Regions from separate parts of the Homo sapiens genome. Here all the other regions are linked to region 2. The links come from fine-mapping of genetic effects on gene expression. A gene starts in region 2. Each other region holds a variant in brackets. All regions are shown on one strand. Distances are from middle to middle.

Evidence for each region.
Region 1: its variant is fine-mapped to the expression of WDR86 in whole blood (INTERVAL, PIP above 0.99).
Region 3: its variant is fine-mapped to the expression of WDR86 in whole blood (INTERVAL, PIP 0.96).

What each region holds. Positions count from the first base shown.
Region 1 is chr7:151,379,728-151,386,147 of GRCh38, reverse strand. It overlaps WDR86 (WD repeat domain 86), which reads left to right. Exons shown (of 6, transcript NM_198285.3): 4 at 925-1,060; 5 at 4,167-4,270; 6 at 4,402-5,024. The coding sequence ends at 4,566. Among named protein-coding and RNA genes, the nearest start is that of WDR86-AS1, 26 kb to the left of the region's middle. RefSeq lists silencers at 4,362-4,601, 4,622-4,781. The variant A/CA (reference allele first, on the strand shown) is at 2,970.
Region 2 is chr7:151,406,676-151,413,095 of GRCh38, reverse strand. It overlaps WDR86 (WD repeat domain 86), which reads left to right and starts at 3,058. Exons shown (of 6, transcript NM_198285.3): 1 at 3,058-3,669. The coding sequence starts at 3,507. WDR86-AS1 (WDR86 antisense RNA 1) reads right to left here and starts at 3,935. Exons shown (of 6, transcript NR_109857.1): 1 at 3,714-3,935; 2 at 1,784-1,868; 3 at 1,304-1,426; 4 at 1,026-1,129; 5 at 244-377. RefSeq lists an enhancer at 1,860-2,492.
Region 3 is chr7:151,435,771-151,442,190 of GRCh38, reverse strand. CRYGN (crystallin gamma N) reads left to right here and starts at 2,050. Exons shown (of 4, transcript NM_144727.3): 1 at 2,050-2,294; 2 at 3,947-4,195; 3 at 5,866-6,011. The coding sequence starts at 2,274. It overlaps LOC124901780, which reads left to right and starts at 6,030. Exons shown (of 1, transcript XM_047421163.1): 1 at 6,030-6,420. RefSeq lists enhancers at 1,022-1,558, 2,270-2,770, 2,771-3,271, 3,633-4,482. The variant C/G (reference allele first, on the strand shown) is at 3,448.

The sequences.
Region 1 (6,420 bases), 27 kb after region 2:
GACCACAGGAGAAATGCCCTGTGTGCCTGACCCGCTTCTGACTCCTGGTTCCTGGGCCCTAGCAGTAGTGGCAGGAGGCCTCTCTGGGGCATGAAGCCTGCGCCTGTCTCCTGTGCCATCGCGCCAGGTCACTGCAGCTGTGGAGCCCGCCTGCCCGCCCTGGCCTTCTCGTCCGTGACTGCTGACCAGAGGTGCTGGCTGGGAGTGCTCTTGGCTGGGTGGTGTTTAGTCTAGGGGAATTTACAGAATTATTTTAATAGTCTCCGCACTTCCCTGGGGCCGCTACTCCCGTCCATCTTGGCGAGGGCCTCTTCCCTTGTCTCCTGGGCCCTCTCCGTACCTCCTGCGAGACAGCAGCATCACATGGCTGGGTGAGACTGTCTCCCGGGCCCTCTTCTCACTGTGAGCCCCATGAGCAGGGGGAGCAGTGACCCCGTGACAGTCCCCGGCTGTCAGCTCCAGTCTTGGCAGAAGTCTGCCTCACACCCTCGCTCAGGGCTTTCTCTGTCCTGTCTGAAGCAAAAGCCCCATGTGAAAGCCCTTCTCTGGAAGCCCTCTCCTCAGCCAGCAGGAGCGAGCAGTTAAGTGCCTGTACCCCACACACACCCTCGAGGAAGGGGCTGTCCACATCCTAATCCTCAGGGGAAGCAGCTGAGGGGCAGAGAGCCAGGGACTGGCCCAGGGCAGTGTGGGGCTGGGCGGCCAGCCCTGTTGGAGCACTGGCTGCCCCATGGGGCAGGAGCAGCCGCCTGCTTTTGGGTGCTGAAGTGGGCAGTCTGGTGGGGCCGGTGGCGGGGCCATTCGAGGCTCACCCATGGTTTCACCACTGAGACCTGCACATGCCCCTTCCCCCCTTATAGAGGGAGAGGTCTGGGGGGCTTCAGAGCTGCCCCAGCTGCCGACCTTCCCTGCTCCTCCTCGCAGCTGGTGAACCGACTCGTGTACTCTGGCAGCGCGGACAGGACCGTCAAGTGCTGGCTGGCAGACACAGGGGAGTGTGTGCGCACGTTCACGGCCCACAGACGCAACGTGAGCGCCCTCAAGTACCACGCGGGCACCTGTAAGTGACTTGGCCCTGCACGACCTGTGCCACCCCAGCCTGGCTTCTCCTCTCTGCTTCTTTACTTCCTATGGGATTTTCCCTCATTGAGCCTTGGCTGCCAATCATCAGCGTCCAATGGCAGTGCTCGTTCCTTCTCCACACACCCGTGCTTCCAGCTGTTTTGCAAAGAAGGTGCAAATAAGGGTTTGGTGGCTCCTCCCAACCTTTCTCCAGGACAGCCTGGGAGACTGGACTGCTGGGAGGGTCTAGGGTCAAAAGCATGTCCCAAAGGGTGTATCCTAATTCTCCAAGTGAGACAGTGACTGCCCCTTAATCCTGCCAGCCTCGAGGGCCACATGGCTTTGGCCTCACTTGGCCTTAGGATTTGTCTGCAGAGAAGAGAAAATCCAGGTAGCTGTGGTTCCAATGAGGTGGTGGTTTATTTTCTCTCAGGTAGAAGAATTTCAGAGGCTGGTGGTCTCGGCTGGAATGGGTGGCTCCACAAAGTCATCAGGCACCCAGCTTTCTTCTGTCACTCTTCTTCGTCATCCTTAGCACAGACCTTCTATCTTTAAAGAAGCCTCATGATTCAAGATAGCTGCTACAGTGCCAGCCATCGTGTCATGTTTTAGGCAGGCAGAGAGAGAGGATGAAGGGCGAAAGGACGCGTCTTCTAGCTGAGTTGGTCCTTTAAGATCTTTCCTGGAAGCTTCATCCAAGGGCTTCTACATACCTCTCTGTGACCATTCTGTCTGCAAGAGATAGAGAATCATAAAGTCTTTTATCTGAGGAATTTGCTGCCCAGATGGAATCAGGGTTATTTTGGAAAGAAAGAAGGGCAGAATCGCTTGTTGGGCAGGCAACCTGCTGTCTGTCCTACAGGTCTCAACTTGTCACACTCTCGGGCCATTTGGCTCTGCCTCTGGGAGGGAGGAGACTGGGTTGGGGAAGAGTCACAGTGGAATATTCAAGTTGACCTCACAGCAAAGGTGTTGGATGAAGACAGAATGTAGATATCTGAAAATAGATCCTGACATGCCCTCAGGATTCAGGTGTCTGACACAGAAAAATTATTTTTCGTTTGTTCCTGTGTCCAAGGCTGGAAGTGTGGTTACGGCTCTGTTCCCAAGTCTGGGTCCTCTAATTGAACACGAGGAAGGTTCCACTCTCAAAGGCTCTGGCCGGCGGCCGCCTAGAACACCTCCCCGTGCAGCCGGGGCATGGAGCCCGCAGGGAAAGCGAAGCCTGCAGCTCACTGTTGCCCAGCTCGGTTCTTGGTCTTGGCCAGCAAGGCTATGGGATGATCAGACTTTGTTTTTGATCCTCTTCCCACCCGCGGGGAGCTCAGCAGCCACACTGGGTTTTCCAGGCCATGTCCATTTGTCTGAGTTTGTGGGGGGAAGGCAGAAAGGGGCTGAAAAGAGACCCAGAAATGAAACTTCCCCTCTGGGGCCATTCACTCTGTAGTTTTAACAAAAAGGCTGGAACAGGCTGGGCACCGTGGCTCATGCCTGTAATCCCAGCACTTTGGGAAGCCAAGGCGGGAGGATCTCTTGAGCTCAGTAGTTCAAGACCAGCCTGAGCAACATAGCAAGACCCTGTCTCTACAAACATTTTTTTTTTTTTTTTTTTGAGACGGAGTCTTGCTCTGTGGCCCAGGCTGGAGTGAAATGGCGCAGTCTAGGCTCACTGCCACCTCCACTTCCCAGATTCAAGTGATTCTCCTGCCTCAGCCTCCTAAGTAACTGGGACTACAGGTGTGTGCCACCACACCCAGCTAATTTTTGTATTTTTAGTAGAGACAGGGTTTCACCATGTTGGCCAGGCTGGTCTCAAACCCCTGATCTCATGATCTGCTCTGCCAGCTTCAGCTTCCCAAAGTGCTGAGATTACAGGCGTGAGCCACTGTGCCCAGCTCCCCCCCCCC[A/CA]CCCCGCCGCCCCGTTTTTTTTAAAATTAGCTGGGTGTAGTGGTGCATGCCTGTGGTCCCAGCTGCTCAGGAGGCTGAAGCGGGAGGATCGTTTGAGCCCAGGAGTTCAAGGTTAACAGTGAGCTAAGATGGTACCACTGCACTCCAGCCTCGGCAACAGAGTGAGACCCTGTCTCCCTGTAAGAAAAAAAAAAAAAAAGGCTGGGGAACAAGTACCCACAGAGCACCCTCAGATAGATAGGTAGCCCAGCACCCTTACCCTCAGGTGGTCCTACCCCTTTTCCCCAAGGTCCCTGGCAGGCTTGCACCATAGCTGCCCACCGTAGTTACCTGCTCATTGACAGACCCCACAGGACTTCCTCCCTCCCTTTCCATCTCCCATTTCCCTGTGAGCGTTTCCTGGGACGCCTGCCAGGTGAACTGTCTGCATCAAGTCCTAGCATCAGGGTCGGCTTCGGAGAGCCCAGCCTAGGCCAAGTGAGTTCTTCTAGTCCACATCCTCAGTGTGGCCTCCTGACTAGCAGCAGCATCACTTAAAACTGGTTAGAAATGCCGATTCTCAGGCCCCGCCTGCTAAATCAGATTCTGGGATGCGGCCCCGCGATCTGTGGCTAAGACCTCCAAGTGACGGATGCAAATGCAGGTTGCAGTTGGAAAACGATTGGACTGAAATCTTAGGAGAAACCCCAGGGAGAGGCAGCCACCTGGGGGAGGAGACAGACTGAGGTCGGAGGCTCGCCCCCGCTAGGGGTCCCGGGGGTGCGTGATCATGAACCCCAGAGGGCTGGGCTTTGATTTGAGTGCCGATCCGTTAATGAGGACGGGAGGATAAGGTTGCCGACGCAGCGGAAGGTAGGGGGGAAGCGACTCGAGGACCTGACGATTATCCCCAGGCAGGGGCTTCCCAAGCAGGCACGGAAACCAACTTCACCAAACCGCGGAGTGGGGACTGGGCCCGGGCGGTGTTCAGCAGGGCAGGGGCAGGGCCAGCTGGCGCGCAGGCATCTGCAGGGTGGAGCAGAATAACCGTGGGGACCCGTTTCTCTGGAGGGGCACTGTCCACTTCCCATATGAGCCTCAGGATACCCCCGTGGGGCGGAGTCTCGGAGACGCCCCAGGTCACGCTCTCGCCGCCCCATCCCTGCTTGCGGGGGGCCGAGCAGGGAGGGAGGCCCAGCGCGCGCTGTGTGTCCGCAGTGTTCACGGGCAGCGGGGACGCTTGCGCCCGGGCCTTCGACGCGCAGTCTGGAGAGCTGCGGAGGGTGTTCCGGGGCCACACATTCATCATCAACTGCATCCAGGTAGGTCCCTCTGCCCTTCTCGGGGCCGCCGCCCGTGGGAGGGAAGGTGCCCCGCCCCGATCCATCCACGCGGGCAGCGGTGTCCCCCCCGCCTACCGCGTCACCGGTGACGCCCGCCCCTGCGCCCGCAGGTGCACGGCCAGGTGCTCTACACCGCCTCGCACGACGGCGCCCTGCGCCTCTGGGACGTGCGCGGGCTCCGAGGTGCCCCGCGGCCCCCTCCGCCCATGCGCAGCCTCTCGCGGCTCTTCAGCAACAAGGTGGGCTGCGCCGCCGCGCCCCTGCAGCCGGCCTGATCCCGCGGGGCCCCTGCAGACGCCAGCCCAGACACCCAGCGGCTCCCAGAGCGCCCCGCCCTGCTACCCGCGGTGGTGGCGCCCGATGGCCGGCGAGGGGCGAGGAGCGAGGAAGCCCGGGCGGGAGGAGAGCCCGTCGCAGGCGTCTGGTTTTTCTTTGGTGGCCAGGAGGCGCTGGGAGCGGGAGTGCTCGCCCTGGGGACCGCCCCCTTTTCCCTTTTAGGGTGGCTCCTGTCCTCCCTCCCCATCCCTGACCTGGCGAAAGGCCTAGTCCTGGGGACCCTCCCACCTCAGGGGCTGCAGGCGGACTGCCCCAGCTCCCCCAGCCCCACGAAACTGGGCCTTTCCTGCTGAGAGGAAGTGACTTTTTACAGAAGCCACTGAACCTGGTTATTTTGGCAAATCGTCCGTCTCGAGGGCCTTGGGGGGAACTGAAATATACAGCCTGAACGTTAAAAGTGCTCCTGTGTCCTCTTTTTGTTTTGCAAACTGAGTCTCAGCTTCTTTTTGGAGCTTGGGATTCCAGGAACCCAGGGCGGCGGGCCTCCTGCCCTCTGCCTCTCACAACCGGCCTGGGCAGCCTTGGGGGTGACTTGTGGGTGCGCTGCGGGGCTGCCCCCAGTGTCACTGGTGCAGGAAGTGGATGGGGAAGAGGCCGGGGAGCAAGGGAGGAGCTCTTTAGCCTGTGCAGGTGACAGCGGGGACCCTGCTTGGGAGCAGGGTCATTTTCTGGCATGTCATTTTCTGGCATGAATCTAGGAAGTCCGTTCAGGGCCTGGAGTGGAAGGAGGGGTGGGGGCGGGCAGCAGCCCCACCCCGGGCTCGTGCACAGGAGCCAGGGCAGCGCCTGGTGCTGGAAGGCGCAACACACATGCCAGAGCCACCGGGCACCCAAGGGGAGCCCTGTGCCCAGGGGCTCGAGGGGCCAGTGGGGCTCAGTCTGCCGAGGGGCCCTGCAGGAGACCCCTCAGCACCCCTCACAGCACCTGAGCGGGGTGCTCTTCAGTCCCTTGATGGTGCCACTTTCTGCATCCATGTGCCCCGGTTGGCCCGGGTGCCAGGAGAGAAGCTGCAGGTGACAGTGTCTGCCGTGGAGAGCTCATCATCTCGCTGCAGAGAGAAGCACCTGCTGCAGGAGCAGCCCCTTCAAGTGGAGCAGCCCCTTCAAGTGGAGCAGCCCTTTCAGGTAGAGCAGCATGCGCTTCATAGTCTTAATGCAGAAGATACTTCATCAGAGACGGCCGGGGCCGCCAGGGATCACCTGCTAGGTGATGGGCGGGTCCGCCCTCGGGCGCGGATGAACAGGTAGGGATTGCACTGTGGGCAGTAGGAAGGAAAGGACGCAGGCGCTGTAACTCCTCTAGGCCAAACCTCCAAACCCTGGGAACCAAAGTGCCCCCGACCCCCACCCCAGGAAAATGGGCCTGTTGGGAGGCAAGCAGATCGGTGCAGGAGAACCCGCAGAAACGGCACCATGCACTGTTCTCCGGGTGAGACTTAAGCACACACAGACCTCGGGGGTGGCCAGGTCTTGCTGCGTCCCGGAGCCATTGGGGCCTGTGGCTGCCACAAGGGGCATACCTACCAGAGAGGACCTTTCCATCGTGCTGAAGGGACGGTTCCGGTGGCGCAGGCCAGAGAACCGCCTTGAGTGCTGCCTGCGGGCAGTGCTGCCGGCCGGCCCTGAGCCTGCACAGACGTTCACACTGACTCCTGCTTGCCGAAGACACTGCTGCTTGGTGATGCTGCGCTCTGGCCTGAGCAGCCCCTCACTGACACGTCAGCTCCAGTCCCCACCTTATCTCCCCACAGCAGAGAATGGAGCATGCATCAAGCCATCCAGAGAAACCCAGT
Region 2 (6,420 bases):
CTGGCATCAGCCTTACATTTGGGCAGAATCATCTTACACAAAGCCTATTTTAAAGTAAAGTGTTGAATATCTCATGTAATTTATTGAATACTGCACCAAAAGTGAAAAACTGATTGTATTGGCACTTGAAGTACAATTTCTACTGAATGTCATCACTTTCATACCATCATAAAGTTGAACAATGCTAAGTTGGGACTATCTGTACAATTACCCTCAAATATATCTTCGATCATACACTCTCACCCCCGGGGTGAAAAACCTTCAGGGCTTCCCGTTTTCTCTCGACTGCCTTGGGCCTGGGGTAGCAAGGTCTTCTCCCGGGAGCACCGTGCTTGTGAGAGTCTGCAGGTGGCTGCAGGACTGGGAAGGCTTCCGTCCTGTTGAAAAATACTAGCACTTAGCACAGTACCTGACACACAGTAAGTACCCAAACTATGAAGATGATGACCACAGGCACCCTCACCACCAGCATTGCAGGTTGTGCCAGAAGGGAAAAAGCAATTCTGACAAAGCTCTGGCTATGACGTTCCCTGTGGGCGCCCCTCAAGGTGCCTCCCTCTGTCACCACCTACACACACACACACACACACAACTCAGGAATATCCAGCTTTCACCATGCTTCTCAGAGAGGCCCCAGAGGGTCACTCTTTCCAGCAGGGTAAATTGTGGCAGTCCCTGTGGCACGGGGAATGAGCACTCCCTGGCACAAAATGCACCCGCCCCCCAACCCTTCACTTGTTAAACACTGCCCATTTCTTGCTTCTTAAAGCTTAACCATTTCCTCCTACACCCTACCAGGTTCCCTTCCCAAGGTGCCTTCCATTTATAAAGTGATTAGGTCCAGGAGGGCCTGGGCACCACGGGACTCCAGGCCCTCTTGGAGGCTCCAGAAGAGTTAAAGGTGTGAAAGGGGAAGGGAGCCCAGGTTCTGCTGGGGACCCAGCCTGACTCCTGGGTCTCTATAGCTTTGCTATCTTAAGGTGGAGGTTGGGGGAGACCCCAGTTTCAGGGGAATTAGGGGAGACCTCAGTTCCAGGGGAATTCGGTGCTGTTTTCCAATCTACCCAGCTTCTTGTACTCCTGTTAGATCTGGGGGCAATTTCCCAGAGGAGAGTCTGTAATCTACGACCTGCAAGAGAAAAGGGAAGACAGGCTGGCTGAGGACATCTGCACCCACAGCTCTACAGTCCAGACTCAACCCCCAGAGATGGCTGGCTCATCCCCACCAGGGGGCCACTTTGTGCCAAACCGGAGAAGGAGGGGTGGGGGAGGTGGAGAAGCCAAGAACAAAAAATCTATCAACCTGGAAAGAGGAAGTAGGTAAGGTCAGCGGTGTGTGGACTGCAGGCTCCCAAGATGATGGCGCTGGCGCTTCTGAACGCTCTGCCTGCTGGGAGCTGAGCATGGGGCTGATGGCTTGTGTTGGCTGCAGAGGAGAGGAACCAGAGTGCATGGGTGCCACCTTGCTCAGGAATCCTGGGTGACCTCCTTGAAAGTTAAGCTTTTCTCCTGGTGGTTCTTTCCTCTGGCCCACGACCAGGCAAGCTCGCCCAACCTACGATCTGTCCCCAGCTCCCAAACTGCTTTCAAACCCCTCCCCTCTTAGTTTCCAAAAGAGTCGATGCCTGGTTCTCCTTGGCCCCTCTGCCCAGAAAGTTTGGGTTTCCTCTGGCACTTCTCCGGATAAACCCTCCCAGCCTCCATGGTCCTCACATTCACCTTCCCCAAGGGCTGCAGCCGCAGGGCCTGCCCAAGATCCCCACTATACCGAGTCTGTCCTCACCTGGAGGCCACACCGCAGTTTCACACCTGGATGTGCAATGGGCCCCCTGAGGTTCACCGGTTCCTAAGAGGAACTGGTGATCAGCCTGTAGGGGACAAAACAGTCTACCCAGCCTCTCAGCACAAGACAGGCTCCCCGGCCTCTCCCGCCTCGCAGGCATCCAAATGCTGAAGCCTCCACCTCCTGAAAACGTCTCTCCTTTCGGCCTCCCTCTCTCCGGCTGGATGACCCCAAATCTCGTCCTAACGCTCCTCCACTGCCCCTCTCTCCACCACCTGCTAAGGAAGGGCCACGCTCCTTAAGCTGAGGCGCCAGCTGCTTTACAAGTTTTGAGGGAAAAGAACGGATTTCTCTGGTTAGGCCACTCTGGGTATAAACGACCCAACGGCCTGGGACACCCCACGATGGGGTTTTCTTTTGGAGTCTGGATAGAGCAGAGCGTGCAGTACTGGTCGTCCCATTGCGGGCTAGCTCGCCAAAGACGCCCCTTCCTTGCCCTTCTCCCTAGGCTCCTGAGAGAGCCCTGGAGCGTTCTGGAAATCCTGCTACCTTTAGGACCTGGGGGATCCGAGTAGGGGGGTCACCTTCCCCGTCCCCAGCGAAGTCGGCGCCGGAACTGCCCTAATGGAAACCAGCCGCCGGGCGCTCCGGGAGGGCTCAGGCCGACCCCGGGGTCCATTAGAGGCGCCCCAGGCCGAGGGAGCCCGCGGCGGCTGGAAGGTGAACTTGACATCCCGGCTCCACCGACCCCGCAGCGGCTCGCACCTCATCCCCACTCCGGCCAGACCAAAGTAGAATCCTGGGTGTGCGCGTGATTTCCCAGGGAGGGCGGACTCGGGGCTTTCCCTGTCGCACCCTCCATTGGGGGACCGCCCCCAAGTCCCCGAGAGCCCCTCGGGCAGAGTCCTTAGGGCTCAGAGCATGGGAGGACCTGGCTTGCCTGGTGGAGGCGAGTAGCCGAGGGGTCGGTGGAGCTGCGCCCCAAATGAGTTCCCGGCGCGCGATTCTCCCCGACCCCGACCCTTTGTCCGCCTCCCCCTCCCTCGTCCCGGCCCTTGGCTCAGGGGACCCAGGCGGCGGCGGCGGAGGTGGCAGAGGCCAGAGCCCAGAGGCGCAGCCCGGGCAGCTAGGAGGGTCGCACGTGGAGCCGTCCCCCGGACCCGCACAGCGACGAAGGGGGGAGGCTGCAGGCGCGCGGGGTGGGGGCTGGGGCGCAGCCCGAGAAGTGGGAGGGGATCGGGTGAGGGGTGGTCTCTGAGGAGGAGCCAGGCTGGACCGTATTGTTCCGCGCTCGGCCGGGGAGGGCGCGGGGCGCTCGGCTTCCCGTGTTCCTCTCCCCGCCCCAGCCCCGTGGGCGCGAGAGGAGGCGGGGGGCTCCTTGTGCACCAGAGACGCAGCTGCCTTGTTCGCCCGGTGGGGTGTGGATCCTCCGAGCGGTGCTGGGAAGGGGGTTCTCTCTGCCCGCGCGCCCAGGACTCTACCCAGGGCGGAGGTCCCGAGTGGGCCGCCCCCCGCAGCGCCCTGGGTTCGCGGGCCCAGAGGCTGGAGGCAGCGGGGAGCTAGGGTCCTTCACCCTCCCCTCGCCGCGTGCCTCCGCAGGAGTCGGGCTCCCCGTTCCCCGCGATGGCCGCGGGCCGCAGTCGTACGGAGCCGCCGCGCGGACCCCGGGGCGCCCCTCCCTAGCGGGGCGCAGCTCCTTCTTGTTCCCCGCCCTGCCAGCGGGATGGGGGGCGGCGGGTCGGCCCTGAGGGTCTGCGCCGACCACCGCGGGGGCATCAACTGGCTGAGCCTGAGCCCCGACGGGCAGCGCCTGCTGACGGGCAGCGAGGACGGCACGGCCCGGCTCTGGAGCACCGCGGACGGCCAGTGCTGCGCGCTCCTGCAAGGTAGACCCTCCCACTCCCTCCCTGACCTCTTCGCCGCAGCTCACCGGCCCCAGACCGCGGACCCCAGCTCCTGCGCCCGCAGACCCCTTTCTAGAAGTCCAGCCCCCGCTCATCCCGGCACACTAGCGGAAGAGCGCTTGTCTGGGCCCAGCATCTGGCTGTTGAGCGCACGGCAGGGCAGGGTGAGGTCTGGGGGTGGGGTGCGGGTGCAGAGCAGGGTGCGGCCGGGATCGGGTGGGTGGGTCGAGGGGCGTCCGCTACAAAGGCGAAGATCATTTGTCAACCAGCGGCAGGAAATCTCCCTTGACAACAATGTTAACAAACAAAAAGTTGCACCTATACTCCTTCTAAGCAAACCTTCCCTTGTCTCTAGGTGCCTTGTGGCCTCTTTGTGGCCAATTGTGCTCTTCTGCTGGCATTTCCTGTTGACGACTCTCACAGCAACAGTAGACGCTTGTTAAGGGCCAGCGGTGCGGAGAAGTGTGCCGTCGTCACACTATGTTACCCCACATACAGACGTGGAAACAGGCTGGGAGTTAAGTAATTCGCCCAGGTCGCACAGCCAGTGAGGGGTAGATGGCAGTCTGAGCCCTCTCATTGCTGTAAACCCTGCCTGCATGCCTGTTGGTTTCTATTTGTGCCCTGTACTCACTCAGGAGGTCAGTGTGCCTCGGGTGCACCTTCCCCTGGGCCTGTCCCATGCACTGTGAGGTCCCTTTCAGCTCTGGCCCTCCTACTGCCCAGGTAGCACACGTAGTCCCCTGGATGAGCCGCGAGGCTTTCTGCTGTGGGTAGTTCTTTATCACCGCGGGCTTTTCCACCATCATCAGTGAACTCTCTGTGGCCTCGCCCAGGCCTTCCAACTTAGGTAGGATATTAGCCCCAATATTGGCTAATCCTGATACTGCTGGTTTTAAATAAGAACAGTTGACCAGGCTCGGTGGCTCACACTTGTAATCCCAACACTTTGGGAGGCCAAGGTGGGTGGATCACCAGAGGTCAGGAGTTTGAGACCAGCCTGGCCAACATGATGAAACCCTGTGTCTAATAAAAATACAAAAAATTAGCTGGGCGTGGTGGCGGGCGCCTGTAATTCCAACTACTCGGGAGGCTGAGGCAGGAGAATCACTTGAACCCAGGAGGCAGAGGTTGCAGTGAGCCAAGATCGTGCCACTGCACTCCAGCCTGGGTGACAGAGCCAGACTCTGTCTAAAAAAAAAAAAAAAAGAAAAGAAAAGAAAAAAATATTACATAGTTAGGGCAGATATTTCAAACCCAACAGGGATGACTTTTGGATTACCGGTTACTTGGGAGTTGGTGTGGATAATGGAGAGGTGGCCACAAACTAACACACATCCCCCCCAAACAGCCACACACACTTATAGGCATTCAACCAGGAATGGAAAATATGAGGTCTTTTAGAAATGTTAAGTCCAGTTGGTATTGCTCCCAAACATAAGACTGTCTTGGGGGTAGAGGGGTGGGTGGTGTTTCAGAAATGCAGATCCCCAGGCCTGGGCTCCAGTGATGCAGTCCTCCATGAATAGGGCTGTAGAACTGGCATTTCTTCTTGTTGTTGTTTTTTGAGATGGAGTTTCGCTCTTGTTGCCCAGGCTGGAGTGCAGTGGCACGATCTTGGCTCACTGCAACCTCCGCCTCCCGGGTTCAAGCGATTCTCCTGCCTTGGCCTCCTGAATAGCTGGGATTACAGGTGCTCGCCACCACGCCCAGCTAATTTTTTTGTATTTTTATTAGACGTGGGGCTTCATCATGTTGGCCAGGCTGGTCTTGAACTCCCGACCTCAGGTGATCCACCCGCCTTGGCCTCCCGAAGTGCTGAGATTACAAGTGTGAGCCACTGCACCCGGCCTAGAATTGGCATTTCTAACAAGCTTTTGGGTGGGTCTTATGCACAGCTGGCCCCGGGAGCCCCTGGGCTGGGGACGGGTTGTGGGAGCCCAGCTTAGCCCACAATTAGGTGGGGTTTCTCCCCAGTGAGGCCCCAGGCTTTGCCAGGCTGCCGGTAGCCTGGTGGGCACTTGGCTTTGCCCCCACGGCAGCTCTGGAGCCTCACCAAGCCTCCAGGGCCCACCCTCCTGCCCAGCTCTGTGTCTGGCACCTGTGCCTCCTTCCTTCACACCCACTTTGGTGACCCTCACGGCTGCTTGTCCCCTTGAGGTACTGACACTCACTTCCCAGGGAGGGTGCCCAACCTTCTGCCCTAATTGAGGGCAGGGCTATCCCCGCTCAAGCAGGACACTGGAATGAAAGAACTGTGGCCCATTTTGCTAGGATTGTTTTTGCTGTTATATGGGTTGGTATTTTCAGGAATTTTCAAGGACGGGGACAGAGGTCATCTTTCTTTATCCTGAGATTCTACTGATACGCTCAACTTGCAAAAGAGTCATTGTGAGTGTGTGACAGTCCTTTTGTGTGGATCCCCAAAGAAAGCAAGGTGTTGCCAGTTCCTTTCTCCTGCAGGATTTTTTTTTTCTATCAGTGAAATATTATTAAAATGTCTTAACATTTGTTTAGTGCCCTATATTTTATAAATAACACATCTTTGTGCTTTTTTATTGTGTAATGAATCCTCACAACTCTGAGGTGGGTGGGATTGACACCAGTTCACAGAGGAGAGTGGGGAGGTGCAGACTCATGAGCAGCATACACGGCATTCTTGTTGTTTTCTAGATACCATCGATAATGGGGTGGGTGCTGTCGCCAACATCCCTCGAGGCGTGGTGCGGTGGC
Region 3 (6,420 bases), 29 kb before region 2:
AAGAAAAAGTTAAGAGTCAAACACTTACATACTCAACTGGACAAAGAGTAGCAAGCTGTGAAAAATCAACCACATTATGTGGGGAGGCTTTAAAAATGTGTTATTTTAACAAAGTCTACGCCGCATTCTCTCAACTTCTCATCCTGTATCCCGATGTATAACATAGGTTCATCGGCTGTGACAAATGTACCACTCTAATGGGGGCGCTGATTGTGGAGGAGGCTCTGTGTGTGTGTGTGTGTGTGTGTGTGTGTGTGTGTGTGTGTGTGTAGGGGCAGGGGGTATACAGGAAATTGCTGTACCTTTTGCTGAATTCAACTTGAACCTAAAGCTGCTCTAAAAAATAAAACCTTTTTTTAAGGCTTATTTTTCCCTGTTGAAAATAAGGGAAGAGGCTTCCCTTTCCTCCCTTTTCTTGCAGAATTTCCTTCTCTGTCATTTTCAAATGTGTGTAAATCTTTTTAATGGCTAAACAAGCCTCTTGCCAGTCTAACAACTCAGTCATGTTTCCTCTGGGAGCCTCTTTGAGTCTTGACATCAAGGAGTAAGTGCCCCCACCCTCCCCGTTTCCTAAGAAGCCTGACTTCAGCTGTCACCTGACTCCAAATTGCAAAACCCACCTCCAGTCATAGAGATACAAGAAAATCAGCAATTTTATCCTGAAAACATGAATGCAGTGGGTTGTGTCTGCTTGGCTACAGAAGAGTGAGATCTCTCTCCATCTTTGCGATCTCTTAGGGGAGAGATCGTGATGCAGATCGCATTCCAGTTTAAAGTTTATTCAATAATAAAATTGTTTTTTTTTCCTTCTACCTTCGTGGAGAAGTTTTCTGGGTTGGCTGGAGATTTTGTTTTTAATTTTATGTCCCCACCAGGGCCCAGGTCCAGAGAGAAACATTGGAATGTGTGGCTTGGCAAGTAAGGGCGCCAGTGGAGGCAGCTGGGCGGCGTCCCTAGGGAGGGGCGTCCCTAGGGAGGACCGTCCCTGGGTTCAAGGGTGACATGCAGGTTCTGGTTTGTACCCTGTCTACTTTTGAAAACCTCCCACAGCAGAGGCAAGGTCACCCCTCTGCCCCAAGAATCACATAACCTCCTCTTCCTGGGCCTCAGTGTCTCATCTGTGAAATGGTCATAAAAATATACTGTTTGAAGGAAGAGCAGCCCAAACTCCTCCCCAAAGCTCCTCCCTCCCCTCCAGCAGAAGCCCCTGTGGAGCACCTGCCCCTCTCTCCTTTGATCTCAGAGCCTGTCCCCCACCACCCCAGCCATCTGAGTCATGAGTCCTGTGTTCCCAGCTCATCTCCCCAGCCGTGTGGGGGCTGCACATCCTGTGGGCTCCATGTTCGCTCTGCTCACTCCACAATCTCTGAGCCTCTGCTGTCTGCCAAGTGCTCGTTCTGGGCCCTGGGGAACTCTCCCTCCGCGGTGGGGCTGCTTTGTGCTGTAAACTGATCCTGGGCGTCCAGGGTGGCTTAGTTGGTGCAGCAGAGAGGCAAGGGGCAGAGCACTGTACCCCCAGCTCAGGGCAGCGCGGGTCACCTGGTCACCCTAGGCAGGATCTTCAAGGAGAGAGGGACCCAGGGAGGGAGAGTGCCAGGGAGGGAGGCAGGCAGGAAGAGAGCGGGAGGAGGGAGGCCTGACCTGGCCTGGCGTTTTGTGGGGTGTGGGGGGGTGCATCAGGAGCTGGGTGAGTTGGAGCCGGAGGTCTAAGGTGGGGACCTGGGAGCTCAGACCAGAGCAGCCAGGGGAGGGGCGGTCAAGGGCTGTCTGTCTGTCCGGGGAAGCTTGGGTTGCATCCTCGTGGAGACAAACAAGTTGGCACCAAGGCGAGACTACCTGCAGCCAGGTGAGAAAGGGGAGTGGGCTGGGGAGCTCGGAACAGGCCTTGGGAGGGAGGGAGATGGGCGTGAGGGCTGAGGGGCAGCGCAGGGGAAGAAAGGTTGGAGGGCTAGAGAGACACCTCCCCTCCTCCCCCCACCACTCCAGGGCAGGGCAGGGGCAGCCGCGGGCTGGGCGGGAGGGCTCAGGGAGGAAGGAGGCTCGGGAGCTAAACGCGGAGAGCACAGGGAGACCCCGGGCAGGGCGGGCTGCACTCGCGGTGGCACAGGGTGGCCGCGGCGGGTCCCAACCGCCTGGTGGCCCCTCGGGCTTAGCACGCCCGACAGCACTAACGCTCCGGGGCCGGCCCAGCAAATCTTTTGTCCGGGGCGGCGCTGAGCCAGCAGGGCGCTGCCCGGTGTAAACGGGGACCCGCGGAAGGGGCGGGGCGCACCATGGCGCAGCGCTCGGGGAAGGTGAGTGCGTCCCTCAACCCCAAGGAAACCGAGTGGGGCTCCGCCTTCGCCCCCTGTGCTAGGGGATGCAGGAGGGTGCACACTGTTGATGGTGACAAATCCAAGGGAAGCTGGTTTAATTTCTTAATAAAATGGGGTGGCCTCGCTACTGGCCTGGGGCCTCTCTGGTGTGGATGGATAGGAAGGTCTCCATCTCCACTCCTTCCTTCTGGGATTCCAACCCCTCGCCCTGCAGTCAGGAGCAGGGAGGGTGTTCAGACTCCCTGGGGCTTCCTTGGGGTGGGGGAGGCTTGGCTTGTCCCACAGCCCTCCGCCCCACTGCTGCGGCTTCTTTGCCCAAGGCTGGCCTCTATGGCTTTTCCTTCCCAGGGTCTCTTCAGGGACACTTAGGGCTGGTTCTCTGAAAAATGTTGAGATTTGAGGGAGCCCCGAATCCCTTTGGTGCCCAGACCTCCCTGAAGGTTTCAGGGGCCCTCTACCAGCCGTGCCTGGTGCAGGAAGGACGGGAGACCTGGCTCTCCCTCGCCCTCTCCAGTGCCCCTAGCCTAGCCACTCCCATGAAGCCTTTGGTCTCCAAGGCCACATTCCAGAGTGTCTGGGGGTGACTGTGTTGCTGTATCAGTCTGCATGGGCCAGGTGATGCTTCAGTAACAAAGGGCCCCAGTAACTCTGGGGTGCAGAACGCCAAGGTGTCTGCCTCCTTTCCGGTGAACGCATGTGGCCACGCCTGACTCCAAGGGGCCTGGAAGGGCAATTCTCGTGTTCTTTTGAGCGAACTGGAGACACTGGTGAGGCACAAGCGACCATAGTGATGGGGAACATCACTGCACTCTGGCAGGACCCTTCTAGGGCCACAGTTCTTGAAACCCAAAGAGTTACTAAATGGTTGAGATTTTAGGTTCCACAGCAGGAAATGAGTCTGGCGGGTTGTTATTGCTTCACTTTGTTTTGTTTCGGGACAAGGACAACCTGTGAGTGCCACGTAGCTATAAGACACGATGTCTGAACTCCCAGCAGGGTGATGGAGCTCCAGATCTGATACATGCCTGCTACCCAAAGGAGTGACCTACAAAACACAGAGAGACAGGGTGGCACTTATAAGCCCTCTTTTGCGAACATTAATCCCGAGCCAGGCCCTGACGCGGCTTCGGCC[C/G]ATTCAGCCTCTCCAGTGAAGGAGGCCCAATCCCAGGAACCCGAATTTCTGCAAAATATATGCTGGGTTACCATGAGAGGGTTGTGGGTGAAATTTCTTCTTTTGAAAACACCTCCTTTAATGTTATTATCGGCTTTATGTTTTAATAATTAAAAAATGAGTTAAAAATGCAGTGGAAGTTGAAAACAGCCCATTTTGAAATGGGCACCTAGACAAAGGGGAAACCCCTGTCCCCAAATCGCTGCTGAAATTTGTCTGCCCCACTGTGAGCTCCTAAGGGTGGGGAGGAACAGTAGCTGTGTATGGCATCAGCCTGCCAGCTGTTCGTTCTTTTGCCCAATTGGCAAATAGTGTTGGGCACCTACTGTGTGCAGCAGGTCTGGGCTTTTGGGGGCCTGGGAGTAGGGGTTCCATCCAGGGTGTTGGGACCCAGACGCCAGCCTCCAACGCTGACGGAGAGAAGCCCCTGACCCTGAGCTCTGTAACCTGCCCTTTCTAGATCACTCTCTATGAAGGCAAGCACTTCACAGGGCAGAAGCTGGAGGTCTTCGGGGACTGTGACAACTTCCAGGACCGGGGCTTTATGAACCGAGTGAACTCCATCCACGTGGAGAGCGGAGCCTGGGTCTGCTTCAATCACCCCGACTTCCGGGGCCAGCAGTTCATCTTGGAGCACGGCGACTACCCCGACTTCTTCCGCTGGAACAGCCACAGTGACCACATGGGCTCCTGTCGGCCTGTAGGAATGGTGAGTGGGCCCGTCCACCGAAGGCTGAGTCTTCCTGCTGGAGGGACCGAGGGTCAGCCCTGGCAGACAGTGGCAAGGAATCGGGGAGCGTGGTCCTCCCGGCTTTAAAGTCTGTAAGACTGAAGGAGCTATACCCAGAGCCACCTGCTGGCATGAGGTGAGTAGGTGGGGGGCCAAGTTGCTATGAACTGAGTGGGAGTGGCCCTGAGTTTTCATACAGGTATCAATAAACCACTTTAAGTTTCGGAGCCAAAAATCTAGCTGCATTTTCCATTTAAAATGCTGTTGAAATCATCCAAATTTAGATTTCCAGCCAGATAGGGGACACTCCGCCAATGGGAGGCTGATTTGGGCCTAGTGTGGCCACTAGTACAGGTGGTCTTGTGGCACATTCTGGAGCCTTCCATGTCTTGGAATGGCTGATGGAGGAAGCTGAAGAATCACCCGCCTGTCAGGGGAAAATTGGGGGGCAGGTCCCTTGGAATTACACAGGTAGCTGCCGCCCAAGAGGTGTGTGCAGGGAGGGCAGACGAGGGGCATGGCTCCCCGGTGGCGAAAGACTGTTTCGGTCCAGCTGCTCCTAGGGTGGGATTTAAGCAAGGCCGTTCCCCCAGGTCATGGGTACTCACTGACCTGCTGTGAGCTCTGGAGCTTCAGGTGGGGAGTGGCGGACTCCTGAGCCTGGGGGCGTGCATCTCTCATCACAGAGCGTCTCGCTTATGTCTGCTGAGGACCCTCCCCCGACGCCTGGGCTGGGTGGTTCTGGTGAACATCTGAGGAACCCCAGTAAAGGGGCCTTTGTGTGGTGCCCCCTCTCTTTTCTGTATCAGTTGCAAAACCAGCTGGGCTTTGGCATCTCAAATTGTAAGAATGCTTCCTTAGTATTTCTTCCAGGCTGTGGTCCATTTGGAAAAAAGAAATTTAAATGGTTGGCCCTGGACCCTGCATAATGCTATTTATATGAAAAACATCCTTGGTATCTTGCGAACTGCTGTTCTCCTAAGAGCTAGCCTGGGGCCAGCTGTGACGCAGACCAGGCCCTGCCGGCTTCTGAGCCAGGCAGGGGCTGGCCCTCCTCTGTCTTTTGGAAATGCGGGAATCATATAGGGAGATGTGCTGAGCCTAGGGGACAATGATGTCAAGGCCAGCAGGGGTTTCAGCACATGAGATCTGGTATTTGTTTTAGATTTTTGGCTTTATGTTTTACTAAAAGGTTCTATTACAGTTTTAAAATGTTATCATTTGAAGGCTTGCCCATGGGCTGTGGCCCAGGGGTGGGGAAGTCAGAACCCGGAGTGTGTGGCTGTGATCAGGGCCGGAGTCCCCCACGCTGAGCACCCAGAGGGAGCCCCGTGACCCCAGCCCTGGTCTGAGTGTGACCGCTGGCCTCTGGTCAGTTTGGCCCTCTTTGGACCTCAGATTTTCTAGTTGTAGAAAGAGGAGCTTGGACCAGCTCAGTGGCTTGGAACATTTTCAGAGTAATAGAACCCTTTCTTCCAACCACATCTCATGTGGAAGAACAAACAGAAGTGTGGGGTTGAAGTGTGTGGGGTGGGGGTGCCCAGTGCCTTGGGTACCTCCTAATTCCTTCCTGCATGGGGCTTCTGTTTCTGGGAGAGGGGAATTCACAGCAACCTCCTTCTTTCCTTCTTTTTTGCTTGGTCTTGGAGCACGGAGAACATTTCCGCCTAGAAATCTTCGAGGGTTGCAACTTCACGGGCCAGTGCCTGGAGTTCCTGGAGGACAGCCCCTTCCTCCAGAGCAGGGGCTGGGTCAAGAACTGTGTGAACACCATCAAGGTGTACGGGGACGGAGCGTGAGTACAGGCCACGTGGCCGCACCCCGAGGCCCGGCTAGGCCCTTCAGCACCAGGCGTGGGAGGCTGCCCGCCACACAGGGGTGGTGGGTGGGGTGGGAATGAGACCTCCAGCAGTGGGCAGCGTGTCCCTGGCCCCACAGGCCCTCTCCTTTCCTCAGCTGCCTCACCTGCCCCAGTCAAGCAGCGGGGAGCTTCCCCTGTGGCCCAGAAGGGCCTCAGAGAGGGACTCTGGGCCCCAGAGGCACCCTGAGACCTTCCCTCTAGGGCCTCAGTCCAGGAGCAGAGGTAGGAGAGTACCTTGAAAGTTGCACGGTTCTCTGCGATTGATCTGATACAAGGGGCCGCCTTTGGTTTTCTTGAACCGGGGGACACCTGCTTACCAAGGGGTCCTCCAGGGCCTTATGGG